Homo sapiens: one gene and its partners. The protein of the gene in region 1 interacts with the protein of each later gene in a biochemical or structural test. Each region holds a gene or a part of one and is shown in the gene's direction. Other genes may lie near its edges.

The links.
Region 2: the proteins of SHC4 (region 1) and RET interact in a test that uses a peptide from one of them, tested with the Homo sapiens proteins (one study listed by BioGRID).
Region 3: the proteins of SHC4 (region 1) and TEK form a complex in vitro, tested with the Homo sapiens proteins (one study listed by BioGRID).

The regions. Positions count from the first base shown.
Region 1 is NC_000015.10:48,822,848-48,828,966, reverse strand, and holds the end of SHC4 (SHC-transforming protein 4), read left to right. Parts: intron 1-2,840; coding exon 2,841-2,996; 3' UTR 2,997-5,226; downstream 5,227-6,119. UniProt on the Homo sapiens protein: Activates both Ras-dependent and Ras-independent migratory pathways in melanomas. Contributes to the early phases of agrin-induced tyrosine phosphorylation of CHRNB1.
Region 2 is NC_000010.11:43,122,069-43,130,508, forward strand, and holds the end of RET (proto-oncogene tyrosine-protein kinase receptor Ret isoform a precursor), read left to right. Parts: intron 1-1,602; coding exon 1,603-1,740; intron 1,741-2,814; coding exon 2,815-2,914; intron 2,915-4,506; coding exon 4,507-4,654; coding exon of another isoform or gene 4,655-4,686; exon of another isoform or gene 4,687-6,043; coding exon 6,044-6,201; 3' UTR 6,202-7,449; coding exon of another isoform or gene 7,450-7,583; 3' UTR 7,584-8,283; downstream 8,284-8,440. UniProt on the Homo sapiens protein: Receptor tyrosine-protein kinase involved in numerous cellular mechanisms including cell proliferation, neuronal navigation, cell migration, and cell differentiation in response to glia cell line-derived growth family factors (GDNF, NRTN, ARTN, PSPN and GDF15).
Region 3 is NC_000009.12:27,104,010-27,112,683, forward strand, and holds the start of TEK (angiopoietin-1 receptor isoform 1 precursor), read left to right. Parts: upstream 1-5,215; 5' UTR 5,216-5,581; coding exon 5,582-5,633; intron 5,634-8,674. UniProt on the Homo sapiens protein: Tyrosine-protein kinase that acts as a cell-surface receptor for ANGPT1, ANGPT2 and ANGPT4 and regulates angiogenesis, endothelial cell survival, proliferation, migration, adhesion and cell spreading, reorganization of the actin cytoskeleton, but also maintenance of vascular quiescence.

The DNA.
Region 1 (6,119 bases):
AACCTACAGAATGAGAGAAACTATTTACAAACAATGTATCTGATAAGGAGTTAATATCCAAAATATATAAGGAACGCCTACAACTCTATAGCAAAAAAATAAAAGCAACCAATGAAAACATAGGCAAAGGACTTGAATGAATAGAGATTTCTCCAAAAAGACCAAAAAATGACCAACGGGTATATGAAAACATGCTCAATCAACATCATTAATCATCAGGAAAATGCAAATCAAAACCACAGTGAGATAATACCTCACACTTGTTAAGATGGCCATTATTTTTTTAAAAAGAGGAAGAAAATAACAGGTGTTCGCAAGGATATGAAGAATTGGTGCCCTCGTGCACTATTGGTGGGTGTGTAAAATTGTACAGCCTCTATGGAACACAGTTTGGAGGTTTCTCGAAAAATTAAAAATAAAACTACCATATGATCTAGCAACCTCACTTCTGGGTAATTATCCAAAAGAACTGAAAGCAGGATCTTGAAAAGATGTTTGCACTCCCATGTTTATTGCAGCATTATTCACAATAGTCAAGAGGTGAAAACTAAGATCCACTAAACAATAAATGGATAAAGGAAATATGATAATATCCATATAGTGGAACACCATAGAACAACCATAGAAAAGAGGGAAATCCTGTCCTATGCTACAGTGTTCTCAAGGAAATGGGTAGTTGCTGTTTGATGGGTATAAAGTTTCAGTCATGCAAGATGAAAAAGTTCCAGAGATCTGCTGTATAACGTTGTACTTAACAGTTAACAATACTGTACTGTACACTTAAAAATCTGTTAAGTGTATAGTACAGTATTAACTGTTACATAACAGATGTATATATATATATATATATACACACACACACACACACACACATACATACATATGTAACAGATCTCATGTTATATGTTTCTTACCACAGTGAAAAATCTTGTGTGGGTGAAGTTACAAACACAAGTGTCTGCAGGACTAGGCCAGTACTGTAAGTGAATAAAGCTGGGCAGGGGATAGAGCGAGCATAAGGTACAGTGGGCTGTGTTAAAAAAGGCACATACCCTGTGTAAGGGGGCAGTCACCACTCAGCTCCAACCAAACGCTGTCATGCAGAGCAGAGGCCCAGTGGGACCAGATTTTATTTTTTTCAAATAAGTCATAAAACCAGAGTTTTATAGGAACTCTCCTTATTTTTAATTCAAAATAGTTGAAACTCTCTGTGCGTAACCTCCCCTCCCTATCCTAGCCCCTAGCAAACTAAAGCATACGGGGCATTCAGCCAGAGTGGCCTGCTTACAATCTCTGTACTTGAAAGATTAATTTCACACTTGTATACAGGATTGATTAAAGAGAAGGGGAAAGACCAGGGACAGAGAGAGTAATTAGAGGCTTCTAGGTAAAAAGTAGTGACAGCCTGAGGCAGAAGAAATACAAAGAAGAAGGCAGAGTGACTTGGCATTAAGAACATAGAATGGAAGGATTGGTCAGCTGATTTGGTGTGGGATGGGAATGAGATGGAGGAGTTGAAAACCTTTTTGAGGTTTGGAGCCATTTGAGAGCAAATTGGTGCCATTGTGTCCTCTTCTGTAAATCCTTGAATGTGTATTTCCTAAGAACAGAGATATTCTCTTCCATAGCCATAGTACAGAGATCAAAATCAGGAAACTTAACATTTGTACAATACTATCTAAGTCATAGTCCATATTCAAATTATATTAATTATTCCAGTAATTATGCATGATTTTAATACGGCAAAAACCAACATCTAGACAGAACTCCAAGAATCCCTTGTAGGAGAGCTGGCAGAAATACATAACGAGGTGCTGCCTTGTTGCATGCCTTCCCCTTTCCTGGATGGTTCCTAGCCACCCTCCAAACAGGAGCACTTGTATAACCAGGCCACCAAGCTGGTAGAGCCACAATGGATAGTAATGTACAGCTTCTGTCTATGCATAGGGTACTAGGAAGGGAATTCCATAGAAGGCATGCCATAAGAAAATTGAATTTCTTTGGCATGCCGACAGTAAGTTCCATGCAACAAATATCTGTGAATCAGCTACTATGAAGTCTGTGGGAAGGACACATGAATGCCTATTAGAAAGGTCTGAGGAGGCTTCTTGGAGAAGACAGGAATGCTGAGCCTCCAAAGAGAGATAGGAGGTAGGACTTCTCCAGAAAGGCCTGCTTCTGACAGAGACAAGGTGATATGGAAGCACTCTGGTTAACAGAAGATAATTACAATCCTGGGATTCATGCTTGTATACAAACCAGTTAAATAGTTATAGAGATAGTGACATAGAATATACCAAACAATAATACTGCAAAGAGGCTGATTGCAAATTTGGATTGGGTGACAAGTGCCTACCATTTTCCTAACTTATGGGAATGGTTGCTTTAAAATGGTAATGAGGAATGAGAAAATTGTTGACTAGGGACTACAGAGTTTAAAAGCACCTTTTCTCCTAGCCCTTTGGGAAGCCAAGGTGGGCATTGGCGCTCAGGAGTTTGAGACTAGCCTGGGCAACACGGTGAAACGCCATCTCTACTAAAATAAAAAAAATTAGCCAGGCATGGTGGCACGTGCCTGTAGTCCCAGTTACTCGGGCTGAAGCACTAGAATTGCGTGAACCCAGGAGGTGGAGGTTGCAGTGAGTCGAGATCGTGCCACTACACTCTAACCTGGGCCACAGAGTGACACTCTGTCTCAAAAAAAAAAAAAAAAGTACCTTTTCTTTTTTCAGCAAAGTATCTACTTTAGGGATATATCTGGCATTTTCCCCCTTATTATTTATATCTTTCAGGAGAACTACTATAATTTAACCTAAATATATTTGTACTTCTTTTTCAAGGTGAGGACCAAGGATCATGTATTTGATAATGTCGGCCACCTTATCAGATACCATATGGATAACAGTTTGCCAATCATCTCCTCTGGAAGCGAAGTAAGCCTTAAACAACCAGTGAGAAAAGATAATAATCCAGCACTTTTGCATTCCAACAAATGACAGTATTGAAGCACCATCACACTGATATTTCAAGAAACCCCATTTTGTATTAGGACACAAAGATAATTTAAACTTTGTTTGTAGATAAAATAGAGCACAAACTGTGAAGTGCATCTTTCCAAGACCATCATGGACCAGGTCCTCTATAAAATGAAGAACTAACAAAAATTAGTCTTCAGAAATGAAAATCAGAAAAGAGGAAGAGGGTTGGTCATTTTAAAAGAAATTATATGTATGCACGGATGTCACTTTTTAAGGCCATATTGCATTGATAACAAGCTAAAAGCACAACTAAAATTTCACATGCTAACGACAACTTGAATGAACTGCTGGGGCAGTGGTATGTGCCTTTCAACTTGATAATTTGGGGGACATTTTCATATTGGGAGATTAATTCTAAGTATCTTCATGTTCTATGACTATAGAACCATTTGCCAAAAAAAAAAGCTTTTCTTGCTACAAAAAATAAGCAATTTTCTTGAGCCTTATTGACTTTATTACATTTTCTGTTTAGCAGCATTTTTCACTGCAATGTTAAAATAAATATGACATTGAATTCGAACTGTGTGTATGTCAGTGGAATCAAATCAAAAGCCACTAACATGGCTGTCTGTTTCATTGGACTGTCCCATTTGCTGGTTAAAAGGATTGGGGCCCAAATCCTCTGGCCTAGCATTTCTCAGTGTTTGCTATTCAGACTGTCTAAATACAGCATGTGACAAGCTGAAGAAGCCAAATCTATCAGTCATTTCTGATTTCATTATATTCTCCCCCTCTTCCTGCTAAAAAGACAAAAAACAAAAAACAAAAAAAACAAAAAAAACCTCATGAGTGCATGGATTTAAAAGAGGGCAAACAAAACCAGTATTCTTCATATTTACTATTCAAATTGGTTTCATTCTTAGTAAAAGTACAGAATCTATTTGAAATTATAGTAAAATTTCTTCTTGATTGGCTGACACTGAATCATAGTTTCTCACCTACATATATCCTTAGCACCTCGTATAGATATGATCAGACAAAATGCAGAAGGAAAAAAAAACATATTGAATGAAGCACTTGGAAAGATTTTCCACATGTAGACCAACTGGTAAACTAACAGAGTGATTAAGCATGGTGTACAGAAAAGCATTACGCTGAGTCTTACCAGTGTGACCTTCAGCAAGTTGCTGAATCTGTTTGGGTTCCAGTTTCCTTGGCAATAAAATGAGCTAAATGGGCTAGGTGAATTTGGAGGACTACTTCAGTCCTAACTTATAGTATGAGTCTCTAAAAAGCAAGTTTTTCATTTGTTAGAGGTCGTTATTGATAACCAGTCTGTATAGTTAAGGTAAAAAATTAAGCTTTTCTTCTATAGTCTGTGTCCATACTCACAGAATGAATGGCACACCTGAGATCAACATTCACATAGTTTAGACTCCAAACCATTCAGTCTAAAATACTGAAACTTTGGAATATAGGGAATGATGATAAAAGTGGATTTGGTTTGAGTAGCAGAAAACTACTTATGTCCTTTTCTTGCCTTTCCAAGAAAAATGTTTTTTGTTTTTTTTTTTAATCTTGAGTTATCTGGATATTGCCTTGACTCCATTTCATTTTGGCTATGTAGATACAACTTAGTCTTTGTGATTGTGATATATTTGCTAAGTTTTAAATAAAACTTCTTTTGGATAGAAATCATTAGAAACCAAGCATACTGCACTCTAATATTTTACTGTAAAGGCTTATGATTTTTATTTCTACTGCCATTAATTTTTTAGATGGATTTGTTTCCTCTTACACAACTAGAATTAATGTATTTTTCACCAGTTTTCCATATACCTTAGGTCTTGATCGTTTGTCCTTAAAAAGGGGATCAGCATGAGTATAGACAGTAGAAATGTATGGGTAGTCTAACCACTTTTATCAGAGACAGAGCAGGGCTGTGGTCTCACTCTAGCTGAGCAGAGTATTAACTTGGTAGCAAGAGTTCCTGATACAAATAGATGCAATGACTGTAAATGGTGTCAGCAGTACACATGGATAATCAGTATTTGACTGTAATAGTATAGTAGTTAAATACAGCACTTAAAAATACCACAGACACAGTTAAAGCAAAAGGAAACAATAAAAGGAATGTCTGCATGCTATTTTAATCTCACATTCTTTATCTGTCTTAAAGTGGAAATCCATTTGCCTATAAATACCTGTAAACGACTTTAAAAAATAAATGATTATTGCTTTGTGACAATTGACAGAATATGTCTGATGTTTGGGATTTGGAAACTGTCATTTGTAAAATGTATCAGGGAAACACATTGGCTCAATCAAACTGGATAATTCAAGGTGAGTTTATTAAAGGGACTATTTACAAAGGTGTGGGCAGAGTTTAGGGAAATCAGGAGGGAGAATGCAGTGCCTTGGGGCCAATTAAGGGAGAAAGGGAAAGAACAGCTAACAGAATCTGGAGAGGGAGCTGTGTGCAAGGGCTGCCTTTTAGGAGCTGTGGCCTGTAGTGGAGGAATGCAATCAGCCCTGCTGACTCAACTAAGAGGCAGTGAGGGGCATTCATAACCCAACGTTTTTCTGCTCCCCCTATCTGTCTCCTGCTGGGATTCTCCAGTGGCCCAAGTAACTTGAAGACAGAGAGCAAGGGAGCTCCTTGATGCAGTTCTGGAGGTCAGCCTCCTGGGAACAGAGGAGGATGGAAAAGACTAGAGGGGGAGATCTGGAAGGGCAAATAAATGGAGTACATCTAGCACAGAGGACTTTGAAGAGAGTCAAGCTTCTAAAAGCATTAGAGAGGCTTTGGGTTAGCCAGTAAGGCAAAGCTAATTTGCAGAGAAATAAGTCCAGATTCTCAGGTAACCATAAATGAATTACAGCAAAAATGTCAACTTGTTACTATTATTAAAACTCAAGCTATATTTTGAAGCATTGGTTATTTTGCTCAAGAACAACTTCAAATGCATTTCAATCTTACAGAGATACTTTTAATCCCACCTTCATGTTTCTTGCAATTCCTTCTACTAATTTTGCCATTTTATTACTTGTAATTATATATGGAAAAGTAATGAACCTGACCCTGTTACCTTTTATGATTGGAATTATAGACCGACAAAAATTATAATATGAAATCACTAT
Region 2 (8,440 bases), on another chromosome or scaffold:
CATGTAGTGGGGCCACGACGCCCGTCTGTGCAGCTTGGCCAGGGAATTGCACTGGCCCTGAGCACCTGTCTGCAGTGCTAGCCCTCTGCAATGACCCCCTCACTGAGGGGCCTTCATGATGTGTTCGTGAGGCAAATGGCTGGGCCAGGCCGGGCTGCAGTTCTGAAAGCTCCGGTAGAGCATGAGAGCCGAGCAGGTGGCCAGTAACCCAGCCTCCCCCACCCTTGCTAGTCCCATGCCTCCCTCTGGGTCCCTTGGTGACTCAGGCCCAGCCCAGCAGTTACCCTCCTGTGGTCCTGAGTAGGGCTTTGGGCTCAGGCAGAGCACCCAGTGACTTGCCCCCACCCACAAGTGGAGCTTGGGGACTCCACCTGAAGATGGCCTTGTGTGAGTTTATAGATTGGTGTGCCCCAAACTGCTCAAAGGTGGAAGCCAAAATCTCATTCTTCCAGGTCCAATGACAAGAGCTGATCACTTTTAAAACACAGGATTCTTGCCTCTAAAGTGTTCTACAGTCAGCAGAGGTGTGATGTGCCTCTCTTTTTTTGTGGGGGGAGGGGATAGGGTCTCACTCTGTCACCCAGGTTGGAGTGCAGTGGCGCAATCCTGGCTCACTGCAACCTCCACCTCCTGGGTTCAAGCGATTCCTGTGCCTCAGCCTCCTGAGTAGCTGGGATTACAGGCACGTGCTACTTCGCCTGGCTCATTTTTTTGTATTTTTTGGTAGGGACAGGGTTTCACCATGTTGGTCACACTGGTCTTGAATCCTGACCTCAAATGATCCACCCACCTCAGCCTCCCAAAGTGCTGGGATTACAGGCGAGAGCCACCACGCCTGGCCAACATGTGCATCTTAAATACTGTGGGCTGTGAATAAGCAATTGGACAACAGCTTTCCGATTATATAAGCTGACTGTAGGCTAGTTGGAAAAGGCAGAGAAAAGCATAAAGAAGAGACTGAATGTCATTGGACCACACCGCCCAGTGACCTCTGGCTGCCCTCTGGTGTGCTCCGTGGTGTGCACATGTATGCTTTTTATTGCCCTAAATGGGCTCATGCGATGCTGTTTTGTGATATGATTTTGTTCCCATTGCAAAGCGAGTTTTCCTTCACAGTTAAAATGTTTTTCTATAGCTTTTTTTCCTTCTAAGATTTTATGAAATTTTCCAAGCACATAGAAATGGCAAAAGAACTATACAAGGCACTCTGAGTCTGGTGGCCTGCATTCTCACCGCTTTAAGTGTGAGAATCTTAAGAATTATTAAGATTAATTCATGATATTAATTAATGTATCATTAATTCATTAATCATGAATTCATCTTAAGCCTCATGTGTCCCTTGTGCGTGTGGCTGCTCTGATGGGAGTGGCTTGGGCAAGGACTTCAGCTTCATGGAGTAGGGGCCAGGCAGGCAGGCAGCCCTTCCCCACCTTCATGCTACATCCATCTGAGCAGCCAGACCCAGGCTGACATCTGTGAGCATCTGTGCTTGAAGCCGACAGGGTCAGCAGGTGCTTGGTGGTGGGGGTGGATATCTGGGCCCCCCGGAGGGCTCTGTGAGGGCCAGGTGGAGCCACTCACTGGTCCTTTCACTCTCTGCAGATGGTCTTTTGGTGTCCTGCTGTGGGAGATCGTGACCCTAGGGGGAAACCCCTATCCTGGGATTCCTCCTGAGCGGCTCTTCAACCTTCTGAAGACCGGCCACCGGATGGAGAGGCCAGACAACTGCAGCGAGGAGATGTGAGCGGGGACTGGCTTTGGCCCAGCCTCACTTGGGAAGGGAGGGGACATCTGTGTGCATTCCCTCCCCATCCAGAGCAGCCCCAGGAGAAACCAGGAGAAGTGGGGGGTGGGGAGTGGGCAGGGCAGAGGTTAGAGAGCCATCCTTGGGTGTGGCAGTAGATGCTGGGGGTCCTACCCCACTGAGGGCTGGTGGGCTTCCTAGGGGGTCTTATAAAAATGAGTGAGAGCAGAGACTGGTGCAATGCAAGCTCAAGGGCTGAGAGCTGTCCCAGCAGGACACTTAGGGAGGAGAAGGTAATTCCAGATGGCCCAGGGGGCACGTGTTAAGGGGTGCCTGAGTGGAGGTGCAGAGCCAGGCAGGGGCAGCCTGGGCTGCAACCTGAGAGGTTGAAACCTTTACACTCTCAGGGGAGATGGTCTTAGAAACCAGGCTGAGAACAGATGAGAAAGGGCTGCCCAGAGGCAGAGATGCATGGTACATGCATTCCACAGAGTGTGCACACTGCTGGGGCGTGGAGGGGGCATGCTGGGCCGAGAAGCCAGGTACCACCTCCCTGGGCCCCCAGCTGGTGGCCAGCTGGAGCGCTGTGGTCTGCCTGGGCACCCAGGCAAGCAAGGACGGTGCAGGACAGACGTGTGATTGCCAAAGGTTCTTGTTTGTCTGTCTCCACACCTAAAAGCCCTCAATCAATTCATTCTTCTTGAGAGTTTTAAGGACTGGCACTTCTCACTTAGCTGCCAGAGCAAGCATAGTATCCAGTGAGCTGTTTACCAGTGTCTTTGCAAGGGAAGTAAAAATGAATCTCCCTTGGAGGGAAGGGAAGCTTGTAGGATTCTGGACCACAGCTCTGAGAGACCTGAGCACAGTGGCCCACGGGCTGGGATCCTGCAACAGGCCATGCCCCAGTCCCACGAGGCTCAGAGATGTCAGCGATGCAGAAATAGCTTTGGAGTTGGAGACAGAGCACACTGGGCCCAGGGTACAGGGCAGGGTGCGATGGCTGTGGTGGGCTGTCCTTCTGAGACCTGGCCCTGCTTGGATCATATTGGCCTGTCTGCTCTTCCCACCAGGTACCGCCTGATGCTGCAATGCTGGAAGCAGGAGCCGGACAAAAGGCCGGTGTTTGCGGACATCAGCAAAGACCTGGAGAAGATGATGGTTAAGAGGAGAGTGAGTGCCTGGGTCCAATTCCCACAAGCTGAAAGTGGCTTGGGGAGACTCCAGCCTCACCCCAGGGCAGTAGTTTTAGCCCTCAGAGTTCCCAGTGTGGGGCCACAGTGGGATTGTGCAGAGAGAGAGAGTCATGCTCTCCCCTGCATGCAGACAGCAGATTGAACCCTTCTCAGGCCAGGCCGCTTGGGCTTCTTTTCAAGTCATGAAGAAACCAAGATTCTTGACATTTAGGAAAAGCTCTCTACAGACAGGCATGGGAGGAAAATATTCCAAAGCCAAAAAGAAATAGTTTTCCATAATGGAAAATGAGAAAGTTGAGTTAAAGCAAGTGCCCAAAATTCAGATGCCCAGAGGGGGGTCCGGCTGGAGGAGGGCAGTGAGTAAGGAGCAGTGGAGACTGTGGCAAACAGCCAGCCCCCTCCAAAGGGTTCCTTGCTGGAGTACCTGTGGCCTGCAGAAAAAGGAGCCAGGAATGGGCTGGGTCTTCTGAATTTTATGAGGTTTATGTTGTCTCCCAGTTTTTATTGTTAACAATTCATTTAAATTTCCCAGAGCCGAACGCAGGCCAAACAAAGCATATCGGGGGGTGGCCAGAGTCAGCCTGTGTGCCTGGAAGTACAGTTTGTGAGGTCTACACATTTTCAACCAATATTCATCAGGCAGCTGCTAGGACCCATACTATGTCTCAGAGGCTGGGAATGCAGATAAACAAGACCAGCACAGCCCTGCCCTCACGGGGTTTACACACAGGCCTTGTCTTAACATTGGCACATTTACTGAGTTGTCACTTCTTCCGACTTGGATAGCGGGATGCAGGACCTAGGACCCCATAGGAAAACTTCACATCACTGTCTCGCTTGGATGAAAACTTCAAGTCCTGAGAATGCAGCGTTGTTCAAAACAGAAGCGATCACTGGTGCTGGCCTTCCTAGAACAGTGCTGAGAAACAGCCGGGAAAACGCTGGGCCCCTCTGTGCACATTCAAGCTGGGCATTGAAAGGAGCAGACGCCAGTGGCCCCTCGTGCTGGGGAGCCCGTGCCTGTAGCAGGGTCCTGTGCACCCTGACAGCGCTGTCAGATTTCAGAACTCAGCCCTGACGTGACGTTCTAGATGGCAGGGGTCCTTGGGGAAAGCTGGAAAACATCCTGCAGGCTGGGGCTGCGTCCTGGCATGTGGCTGCAGTGGGCTCCCCCAGAGCCCAAGGGTTTGTCAGCGGGCTGGTTCCGTGCTGCCCATCTCCGGGTTGGGCCAGGGGCAGCTAGATGAGGCGTCCCCCAAGGCTGCCCTCCAGGCCCTGGAGATAAGACGCTGAGGGAGCACATTTCTTTCCCCAGGGAGGTGACTTTCCAGGGGAAGAGACAGAATAGACAACACCCAGGGGAGTGATGGGGACCTCAGAGCAGGACCAGGCCAGCCAGGAGTCCTGGGAGCTCTATGCAGCCTGGCCCTGGTCTCTTGGAGAGGTCAGGAGATTGGTGCGAGGTGGAGACACAGCCAGAGCCTCTGCCCTGAGGATGGCTTGTTGTATACTGAGTTGTATCTAGTTGTGGCACATGGCTTGGAGTGACCGGCCATCTCTGTCTTCCAGGACTACTTGGACCTTGCGGCGTCCACTCCATCTGACTCCCTGATTTATGACGACGGCCTCTCAGAGGAGGAGACACCGCTGGTGGACTGTAATAATGCCCCCCTCCCTCGAGCCCTCCCTTCCACATGGATTGAAAACAAACTCTATGGTAGAATTTCCCATGCATTTACTAGATTCTAGCACCGCTGTCCCCTTTGCACTATCCTTCCTCTCTGTGATGCTTTTTAAAAATGTTTCTGGTCTGAACAAAACCAAAGTCTGCTCTGAACCTTTTTATTTGTAAATGTCTGACTTTGCATCCAGTTTACATTTAGGCATTATTGCAACTATGTTTTTCTAAAAGGATGTGAAAATAAGTGTAATTACCACATTGCCCAGCAACTTAGGATGGTAGAGGAAAAAACAGATCAGGGCGGAACTCTCAGGGGAGACCAAGAACAGGTTGAATAAGGCGCTTCTGGGGTGGGAATCAAGTCATAGTACTTCTACTTTAACTAAGTGGATAAATATACAAATCTGGGGAGGTATTCAGTTGAGAAAGGAGCCACCAGCACCACTCAGCCTGCACTGGGAGCACAGCCAGGTTCCCCCAGACCCCTCCTGGGCAGGCAGGTGCCTCTCAGAGGCCACCCGGCACTGGCGAGCAGCCACTGGCCAAGCCTCAGCCCCAGTCCCAGCCACATGTCCTCCATCAGGGGTAGCGAGGTTGCAGGAGCTGGCTGGCCCTGGGAGGACGCACCCCCACTGCTGTTTTCACATCCTTTCCCTTACCCACCTTCAGGACGGTTGTCACTTATGAAGTCAGTGCTAAAGCTGGAGCAGTTGCTTTTTGAAAGAACATGGTCTGTGGTGCTGTGGTCTTACAATGGACAGTAAATATGGTTCTTGCCAAAACTCCTTCTTTTGTCTTTGATTAAATACTAGAAATTTTTTCTGTTTCCTAACTTCATCATTGATTGTTTGAAATCTTGGAGTTTCAAGCATTTTTTTCAAGCTGAGACGGTTCCTTTTGCATGCCTCCTGACTCACTGACTCCTCACTGGCTTTGTGTCTAGTGCCACACTCCATTTGTGCTGACGATGCTATGAGGCTGGCCCGTGTGCACCCTCGATTTGGAAGGTCCTCTTCTCCGTTGTAGGCTCAGACAACAGACGAGTGCCTCCTTTACGTTAGAGAATGTTTTATAGAACGTTTCCGCTGCAGTAAGCCATTGAGTGCAGCAGTGTGCTGTTGCCCTACACTGCCTTAGAAAAAGAGTTAAGCAGTTCGACAAATATACATCAGATTAGAGAGTCTCAAGTTCATAAAAGTCAAAATTGGTAGTGTCTGTTAAGTTACATTTACCAAGAGAGCACATGATATTTCCCCTAACTATAACAGTGTTTTTGGAAACCTGGAACACAAAACCATTAATATAATTGGCACAGAAACCACGAGTTTGGTTTGAACATCAAAGGGAGTTTTGCCAAGGCCTTACTGTCTGCACTTGAAGTTTTGGTTCTTCAGTGCAGAACAAATGATCTGTTTTCATTTTTAGGCATGTCAGACCCGAACTGGCCTGGAGAGAGTCCTGTACCACTCACGAGAGCTGATGGCACTAACACTGGGTTTCCAAGATATCCAAATGATAGTGTATATGCTAACTGGATGCTTTCACCCTCAGCGGCAAAATTAATGGACACGTTTGATAGTTAACATTTCTTTGTGAAAGGTAATGGACTCACAAGGGGAAGAAACATGCTGAGAATGGAAAGTCTACCGGCCCTTTCTTTGTGAACGTCACATTGGCCGAGCCGTGTTCAGTTCCCAGGTGGCAGACTCGTTTTTGGTAGTTTGTTTTAACTTCCAAGGTGGTTTTACTTCTGATAGCCGGTGATTTTCCCTCCTAGCAGACATGCCACACCGGGTAAGAGCTCTGAGTCTTAGTGGTTAAGCATTCCTTTCTCTTCAGTGCCCAGCAGCACCCAGTGTTGGTCTGTGTCCATCAGTGACCACCAACATTCTGTGTTCACATGTGTGGGTCCAACACTTACTACCTGGTGTATGAAATTGGACCTGAACTGTTGGATTTTTCTAGTTGCCGCCAAACAAGGCAAAAAAATTTAAACATGAAGCACACACACAAAAAAGGCAGTAGGAAAAATGCTGGCCCTGATGACCTGTCCTTATTCAGAATGAGAGACTGCGGGGGGGGCCTGGGGGTAGTGTCAATGCCCCTCCAGGGCTGGAGGGGAAGAGGGGCCCCGAGGATGGGCCTGGGCTCAGCATTCGAGATCTTGAGAATGATTTTTTTTAAATCATGCAACCTTTCCTTAGGAAGACATTTGGTTTTCATCATGATTAAGATGATTCCTAGATTTAGCACAATGGAGAGATTCCATGCCATCTTTACTATGTGGATGGTGGTATCAGGGAAGAGGGCTCACAAGACACATTTGTCCCCCGGGCCCACCACATCATCCTCACGTGTTCGGTACTGAGCAGCCACTACCCCTGATGAGAACAGTATGAAGAAAGGGGGCTGTTGGAGTCCCAGAATTGCTGACAGCAGAGGCTTTGCTGCTGTGAATCCCACCTGCCACCAGCCTGCAGCACACCCCACAGCCAAGTAGAGGCGAAAGCAGTGGCTCATCCTACCTGTTAGGAGCAGGTAGGGCTTGTACTCACTTTAATTTGAATCTTATCAACTTACTCATAAAGGGACAGGCTAGCTAGCTGTGTTAGAAGTAGCAATGACAATGACCAAGGACTGCTACACCTCTGATTACAATTCTGATGTGAAAAAGATGGTGTTTGGCTCTTATAGAGCCTGTGTGAAAGGCCCATGGATCAGCTCTTCCTGTGTTTGTAATTTAATGCTGCTACAAGATGTTTCTGTTTCTTAGATTCTGACCATGACTCATAAGCTTCTTGTCATTCTTCATTGCTTGTTTGTGGTCACAGATGCACAACACTCCTCCAGTCTTGTGGGGGCAGCTTTTGGGAAGTCTCAGCAGCTCTTCTGGCTGTGTTGTCAGCACTGTAACTTCGCAGAAAAGAGTCGGATTACCAAAACACTGCCTGCTCTTCAGACTTAAAGCACTGATAGGACTTAAAATAGTCTCATTCAAATACTGTATTTTATATAGGCATTTCACAAAAACAGCAAAATTGTGGCATTTTGTGAGGCCAAGGCTTGGATGCGTGTGTAATAGAGCCTTGTGGTGTGTGCGCACACACCCAGAGGGAGAGTTTGAAAAATGCTTATTGGACACGTAACCTGGCTCTAATTTGGGCTGTTTTTCAGATACACTGTGATAAGTTCTTTTACAAATATCTATAGACATGGTAAACTTTTGGTTTTCAGATATGCTTAATGATAGTCTTACTAAATGCAGAAATAAGAATAAACTTTCTCAAATTATTAAAAATGCCTACACAGTAAGTGTGAATTGCTGCAACAGGTTTGTTCTCAGGAGGGTAAGAACTCCAGGTCTAAACAGCTGACCCAGTGATGGGGAATTTATCCTTGACCAATTTATCCTTGACCAATAACCTAATTGTCTATTCCTGAGTTATAAAAGTCCCCATCCTTATTAGCTCTACTGGAATTTTCATACACGTAAATGCAGAAGTTACTAAGTATTAAGTATTACTGAGTATTAAGTAGTAATCTGTCAGTTATTAAAATTTGTAAAATCTATTTATGAAAGGTCATTAAACCAGATCATGTTCCTTTTTTTGTAATCAAGGTGACTAAGAAAATCAGTTGTGTAAATAAAATCATGTATCATAAAATGTGTAAACTTTTTTTCTTTTTAACATTCTAGTTGGAAACAACAGATTTCTGATTTTGTAGTTTCCATACAATATTTAAAACATCACAAAGAATTCTATCATGATAACCACTGAGGCATCAATAGTGGTCGAGGACTAGGGGCTCTGGAGATATCGC
Region 3 (8,674 bases), on another chromosome or scaffold:
CCTGGCTAACTTTTGTATTTTTGTAGAGACGGGGGTTTCACCATGTCGGCCAGGCTGGTTTCGAACTCCTGACCTCAAGTGATCTGCCCACCTCGGCCTCCCAAAGTGCTGGGATTACAGGCATGAACCACGGTGCCCGGCCTGGATTGTATTTTGAAGGAGGAATAGGAGTTTACTTTTTCTTTTCATGTTATTTTATCATTTTTAAAGCTTTTTTTTTTTTTCAAGGCAGGGGAATACCTGTATCTGTGTCCTATCTATTCTATCTATACCTAGTCTATGTTATCTGCGGCCACATGACCTCACAATGGTTGCAAAGACATCCAGGTTACTCCTTCTCTTAAGCCATTGAGAGAAGGCATAGGATGATTCGAAATAAAGTACAGAGCTCCTGCCCTAAGAGCTTACAGTCTATCTGGAAAGATGCCACCTGTGTCTAGGAAATACCAGGAAAAGAAAAAAAAAAGTATGAGAATTGGTGTTCTCTAGTCTAAAGGGTACAAAAGCAAACAACTGCTAGAACTTTATTCCTTGTACCACCCTTTGGTATTCAACAGCACAATGCCTGATTTTGTGATTTAACTTTTCCTGTTTTGATGCAGTGCCACCACGCTGGGATTTTGTAATTATGAGCTTCAAAAGCAGAGACAACATCTTCTATTTCTGTGTCTCTTCCTACGGTGAATAATATAGTCCTTGCCGTTTCAATGTTAACAAAAGAAAAAGAAAAATGCTGCAATAGCTGAGAGGGTTTAGAGTAAATGGGGTTTGGAGAGGGTCAGGTATTTTCCACAGCCAAACCAGAGTGGATGTTGTCCCTTTAACTGTGGTGTCCTGGCTGAAGGCCAAAACTTAATTGTTGATGACCCTTCCTTTTCTTTTTTTTTTTTTTTTTTTGAGATGGAGTCTCACTCCATCCCACAGGCTGGAGTGCAATGGTGTGATCTCGGCTCACTGAAACCTCCGCCTCCCAAGTTCAAGCAATTCTCCTGAGCCTCCTGAGTAGCTGGGACTACAGGCACATACCACCATGCCTGGCTAATTTTTGTATTTTTAGTAGAGACACGGTTTCACCATGTTGATCAGGCTGGTCTCGAACTCCTGACCTCGTGATCCGCCCTCCTTGGCCTCCCAAAGTGTTGAGATTATAAGCGTGAGCCACCATGCCTAGCCTGACCCTTCCTTTTCTGCTAGCCACTGTTATGTACAGTGGGTTCACAAAAAAGTTCATTAATGTCCTTAAGAAGTCAGATGGGATGGCTCTGGTGGCTCAGTGCCCACAGACCAGTGAAAGACAGAATGTCCGGGCTGTACTGTAGGTGGCTGACACCCCATCTTCTTGGTCACCTCCTGGAGGCCACACTTTATGTATCTGGATTCTGTTTCTTTTTAAAATTATCCTATTTTATTAATTTATTAATTTTAAATTTTTGTAGGTACATAGCAGGTGTGTATATATTTATGGGGTACATGAGATGTTTTGATACAGGTATGCAATGTGAAATAACCACATCATGGAGAATGTGGTGGTATCCATCCCTTCGAGCATTTATCCTTTGTGTCATGAGCAATGCAATTACATTATTTTAAAATATACAATGAAGTCATTATTGCCTATAGTCACCCCGTTGTGCTATCAAATAGTAGGTGTTATTCATTATTTCTAAGTAGCTTTTTTTGTCCCCATTAACCATCCTCACCACCTCCCCCACCCTCCCACAACACTTCTCAGTCTCTGGTAACCATCTTCTACTCTCCATCTCCCTGAGTTCAATTGTTTTGATTTTTAGATCCCACAAATAAATGAGAACATGTGATGTTTGTCTTTCTGTGTCTGGCTTATTTCACTTAACATAATGACCTCCAGTTCCATCCATGTTGTTGCAAATGACAGGATGTTATTCTTTTTTATGGCCGAATAGTACTCTGCTGTGTAGATGTTCCACATTTTCTTTATCCATTCATCTATTGATGGACACTTACGTTGCTTCCATATCTTAGGTATTGTAAACAGTGGTGCAGCAAATATGGGAGTGTAAATGTATTTTTGATGTACTTATTTCCTTTCTTTGGTGTGTATACCCAGCAGTGGGATTGCTGGGTCATATGGTAGCCTGGATTCTGTTTCTTATTTGCCAGTGGATGTTTTAAAGTATACATCCTATTGCCCTGGGTCAACTTTCTCAAGGACGTCCCCTCAGTCTTCTTCATTTTTACATATATGTTCGTTATTTCTAAAAGTGTTAAAATTATAGAAAAGTATAAAAAAGAAAATAAAAATTATGTTTTCCAACAACTCAGAAATAGTCACTTTCAACGCTTTGATATTTATTTGTTGTATATCTGTGGTGTGTATTTCAGTGTGTATAAATTTCATTCTGTTTAAATTGTGTTTTTTTCCCAATCAACAGTATACCATAAACATTTTCACATCTTTTTATGTCAATCTGATTTCACCATAGTATTTGAACACTTGTCTGGAACTTCATTGTATACCATGATTTTTAATAAATAATCCATTTTTGTTGACCATTTTGATTATTTCTAGGCTTTGATTATTATCAACTATGCTTCTATAATGTCCTTATACACAAATTTGGGGGCACATATTTGATTTTGGCTTGGTGTATATCATAAAAATGGATTTTCTGGTGGGGCGCAGTGGCTTACACCTGTAATCCCAGCACTTTGGGAGGCCAAGGGGGGGGGGGGGTGGATCATGAGGTTAGGAGTTCAAGACCATCCTGGCCAATATGGTGAAACCCCATCTCTACTAAAAAGTATAAAAATTAGCCGGGTGTGGTGGTGCACGCCTGTAATTCCAGCTACTCAGGAGGCTGAGGCAGGAGAATCGCTTGAACCCAGGAGGCGGACGTTGCAGTGAGCCGAGATAGTGCCACTGCACTCCAGCCTGGGCGACAGAGTGAGACTCTATTTCAAAAAAAAAAAAAACTGGATTTTCTGGGCCAAAGGGTATGCATACAAGGCTTTTGCTTTGTGTTTGTGATGTTGACCTCTTGACATGTGATACCAGTGTATAGTAGTATTATGTAAGTTATTTTCCACCTCTTTCAGAAAAACCGTTTTGTTATCTATTGATACCTTTGTTAATTAGTCTCAAAGACTTTTAATGTTGTCTATAGTGTTTTTCATGTATTGAGTGCAAAAAGCAGGAAATAGAAAATGAAGAATCAGCCAAGAGCCTTGTTTGTTTGTTTAGTTTGGTTTGGTTTTCTTTATGCTTTTACTGTAGGTATGTCTGGAAAAATCAAATTAAATGGAATGAGCTTGACTCATGAGGAGGCCCCTTTCATTTTCCTGAAGTGAATTAATACAGCACCCACCGATCCTGACATTAGTTATTTCAGAAGCACACTAAGAACTGACCGCACTTCTCAGTGTCACCAAACTATTCTTATCTGTCAAAGTTTCATTTCAAATACTTCTGTAAGGTCTAGGTGTACCCTGCTGGTGTTTGTGATGTCCTACATTACTCTTGATCTACTTTTCAACTATGAAACAAGGGAAAAATTGGAGGTCCAGAGCTCAGGATTCAGATATTATTACCTCTGCTACTCACAGCAGAGCAAGTAACTTAGCCTGTGTGGAACTTCATTTTTCTTTCTTTTTTTTCTTTTTTTTTTTTTTTTTTTTAGACAGAGTCTTGCTCTGTCACCCAGGCTGGAGTGCAGTGGCACGATCTCGGCTCACTGCAACCTCTGCCTCCCAGGTTCAAACAATTCTCCTGCCTCAGCCTCCAGAGTAGCTGGGGTTACAGGTGCACGCCAGCAAGCACAGCTAAATTTTGTATTTTTAGTAGAGATGGGGTTTTGCCATGTTGGCCAGGCTGGTCTCAAACTCCTGACCTCAGGTGATCCACTCCCAAAGTGCTGGGATTATAGGCGTGAGCCACTGTGCCAGGCCCACTGTTTTTGTTTTTTTTTTTCGTGATGACAAATTTAAAGTCATCTCATAGGAATAGAAAATAGCTTTTTAGTAGAAGCTCTTGGAATTTAAATTGAGACTGAATGGAAAGATGAAAGAAAATAAACTTATTAACATTTAATGAGAACCTTCAAAGAACTAGGCATAGTACCAAATGGTTTTATATTTTTAAACCTCATTTATTCCTCTCAAAACACCTGGGAAGGAGATATTTTTGCCATTTCACAGCTGTTGAAACTGAGGCTCAAAAAGACTAAGTAACTTTTCTCAGCTACACATGTGGCTGAGCCAGTATTTGAACCCAGTTCTGTTTGCAGACAGAACCTGGGCTTTTTCACACCTGCAAACTGGAAACATTAATTGGTTCTTAAGATCATCATCGATGTGATAAAACCTGGGACAGAAATTAGTCAAGACTAGCTGCATCTGCCTTTTCCTCTGGTGGGTAGGAAAAGGAGGAGTATAATGATTTCCTCAGGCATGAAGGTCGATGATGAGCAAAGTGTATACTCTCTAATCTAATGTCATAATTCATATTGTGGAGTAATTATCTGGATAAGTGTAGGGTCTCTGACCTCATTCTAGATATTGTACATTCCATGGCTATTTTCATTTTGGTCCATGAACTCTCTTTGCTCTCATGAGCACCATTTTTATCCCAATCTAATCCTGTATGTTTGTGTTTTTACACAGATTAGTTTTTAAATGTTATATATAATTTGCTTCTGAAACACCATTGCTCAATGACTACCAAATCTTTCTCATTACCAAAATCCTTCTATGCCAACTTCTTCAAGAAATTTGATCACCTTTAGATGAATTGTTAATGAAAATTAAAGCTATAGCCGGCAACATGGGTATCTTTGGGCTAATGGCCAACCAACAGGCCATCTGTGTGAAAGAAAACAGGCTAACAATTTTGGACTCTGGTCTCTTGGGGCTACATTGAGCATTGACCTCACCGGTGCTCACTGAAATTAATTGCTTTTCAGGTTGTATTTTCTCATCACGGAAACCTTCTTCTCCCAATTCAAACCATGTGGGTTAAAATGAGAAAACAAAAGCCAAAACGGCTTCCCACACCCAAAAGCTCCTTCTGTCAGAGATCCCAGTAGCCCCGGGAGAGCTGTTAGAAGTCTGAGAAGGATTGGTCATCATCGCATACCATACATAGGTGGAGGGCTTGTTATTCTCAGTTTCCCGCCTATGAGAGGATACCCCTATTGTTTCTGAAAATGCTGACCGGGACCCACACTTCCAACAAAAATTCCTCTGCCCCTACAGCAGCAGCAAAAGCAGCAGCAGAAGCAACAGCAACAGATAAGTGTTTTGATGAATTGCGAGATGGATAGGGCTTGAGTGCCCCCAGCCCTGCTGATACCAAATGCCTTTAAGATACAGCCTTTCCCATCCTAATCTACAAAGGAAACAGGAAAAAGGAACTTAAAACTCCCTGTGCTCAGACAGAAATGAGACTGTTACAGCCTGCTTCTGTGCTGTTCCTTCTTGCCTCTAACTTGTAAACAAGACGTAGTAGGACGATGCTAATGGAAAGTCACAAACCGCTGGGTTTTTGAAAGGATCCTTGGGACCTCATGCACATTTGTGGAAACTGGATGGAGAGATTTGGGGAAGCATGGACTCTTTAGCCAGCTTAGTTCTCTGTGGAGTCAGCTTGCTCCTTTCTGGTAAGGTTTGGCTTTATTTTTTTTAATTTAGTATTTTAAAAAACAGAGTTAGTGATTTCTGGGTGCTCTCCCCAAATCTCATCAGTGCTGATGAACAAGGGGTGGCTGTAGCAAAGGCACCATTTCTCTGTGAGTCTCCAGTCAATATGTGTGGAAGGATTGAAATGCAAAGGCTCTGTGGCATGAACTGATTTTGCTAGTTTGTCTTCTGGGTGATTGGCCCCTGTGTTAGAAACTCTTTGAGGACCGATTAAATCATCTTATTTGAAGAGATCCCCTTACTATCATGCATTATTTTCCTGCTCCTCATTCTGGAGTGTTTTTCTTATTGATTTTTTTTTTAAAGAACAAACCGGTTTTACCTGCTTTAAAGAAAATCTTCAGTAAAAAATGAAATTCATGCTGAGAAATACAGGGGCCCAATTAAGGCAGTGTATAGATTGTCACTGTTAAAAGGGAACAAAGATGCTTTTCTGTAAAAAGATTTTATATCTACATCCTATTTTAAGCAAAGCAATGAAATTGTAGGCTTTTTTTTTTTTCTTGTAGTTAGGGTCAGGGAGATTGGGGCTATTAGAATTTTTGTTTTATTTTAAAAAATGTTTGCCATGTAGTAATTCATAAAGGGTTTACTGGCCCAATGAAACAAAAATTTAGGCAGTTACCAAAATCTTTAACACAGGAGAGTATATGAAGCCTGTTGTAGAGTGAAGGAGTGGTTGGCCAGTGTGTTGGGTTCAGCGTGTTTATTGCTTAGATACTCCAGATAGTGGTGTGCCTCTGTAGCTCACTCAGCCTATGTGACATAGGTAGAAGGCAGTATCCAAACCTGAACTACATATCACAAATACATTTATCATTGCCATCAGTCTCTCCCCTTCGGTTTGAAAACATTCTAATTTTAATAACGAAAATCGAATTGATATTGGAGATGAATTTGGGAAAATTCACTAAACTTCATGGATATAGGGCATATTAATATAATTTGATTCGAGTATACATAAGTATCTGCTATATTTTCTAGGTGTTTGAACTATTTTATTAAATATTCAAAAAACAAATCCAATGAAATAACTGAGTTGAATACAGTTTGTTTTATAGCTCTCAACAACCAATATTTTGAGAATTTAATAATATTCTTTAAGAATGTGTAACACAAGTTGCTAAAAATTAAAAGATTTTAGGTGGCTTCAGTATTTATGTGGAAATTGTTTAAATAATGTTGACTTCTCCAATAATATGTACTTCAAATAATTATCATGATTCCATTTTTGATTTTTTTTTTTCTGAGTGCCATTATTTACCAGTGACATGAAATCTGGAACTTACTCTATACCAGGGATTATAGTGATGTGAAGCCCAGGTGTCTATAGTTTCTCTGAGGTACTTTGTAGGTTAATACACACACAACTGTTTTCATTCACTTTTTTTACTCCTAAAGCAACTGTGTTATAGCACTTTGCAATACAGGCTTAGAAGAATTGTCATAAAATCAAACAAAAAGGTATGTAGCCAAAATACTTGTTCCATGTCTAGACCTCAGATCCCTGGAAAAAACAGCACTGCCTTTAAAAGGCAGAGGACCAAGGAGAGGAAGTAGGTTCATGTTCTTGTTAGGAAGGGTGACACTAGCAAGGTTAGTTTCTGAGGTAGGTCTGTTGTCTTGATCGTAGCTTGCATTCCTAGTCTAAGCCTCCATGAGCATGACTGCTCAAGGCTTGATAATTGCAACAAGAATCCAGCTAGATAATGTCCACAGCCATAGGAGCCCGTTCCTCTAGTCAAACTCCTGGTAGACTAAAGCAGTGGAGCAAGGGGCTTATGGCTTAAAGGTTTATCTCTCTAGTCCAGTGGGTTGTTTCTTGTTTCTTTTTTCTGAACCCACAGACTGAAAAAAAAAAAAAGCCACTTTTTTTTAGTGAAGGTGGCTCTGGATGACAGAGTTGTTTACCCATAAGAGGGCTGGAGGGGATGTGTAGCTCTCAGAAGCTCCTTACAAATACTCCTAGATTCTGTTGCTTTCCTTTTCTGAATTGAGAATCATTGCTAACTTCAGCTTTCAAACAGGTTCTATTATATTAGCTTTTCCCTACTCTTCCTCATAAAACCAGGCTGTTCTCTTTAAAAAGTTGTATATGTAGAAAACTAACAAAAAAATCACTGTGATTTATCATAGTATCTTCTACGTGATCAACAATGATCTAATAGGAAGTCTCTAGTCTCATGCTTTCATACCTCTTTACTGTGTCACTTGACTTTTTTTTTTTTTTTTTTGAGATGGAGTCTCGCTCTGTCACCCAGACTAGAATGTAGTAGAGTGATCTCAGATCACTGCAACCTCCGCCTCCCAGGTTCACGTGATTCTGTGCCTCAGCCTCTCGAGTAGCTGGGACTACAGGCGTGCGCCACCATGCCTGGCTAATTTGTTGTATTTTTAGTAGAGACGGGGTTTCACCATGTTGGCCAGGCTGGTCTCGAACTCCTGACCCCAAGTGATCCGCCCGCCTCGGCCTCCCAAAGTGCTGGGATTACAGGCATGAGCCACCACGCCCGCCCTTGTCACTTGACATTTTAAATAACAACTGGATTCAGAGATAGCAGACATCTTGTCTGGGGTGGCAGAGGAAACAGTTGTAAGGTCAGGGAAGTGCTCCCAGATGAAACCCCCTTGTTAGGGCTGGTCTCAGAAGGCTAGTGTCAAGTCTGAGTAATCAAGGGTGGAGGTCTGAAAGCTGGGATCGGAGACACCCTTTGGAATTATTCTCAGAGGGAGGAGCTTGCTTTTTTCACAGATGCTCCCTTCCAAGCATTGTCTTTATTGTTTGTTAGGTCTCAGCATTTCCCTTTCAGCCCTGCCCTGGGAGAGCTTCCTGGAAGAGTCTAGTTCTTCCAAGGCGTCTCTCCAGGAGGGAAGGAGTCTTCTAAGTTCATCTCAAAAGACTATGTGATGTTCTCTGGGGAATTTAGGTGGGTGGGCTCTAAATTCTTCTGAAATTATCAGTTTGCCTCCTGAGCCTCTATCTCCCCAAAGGATATCTGTG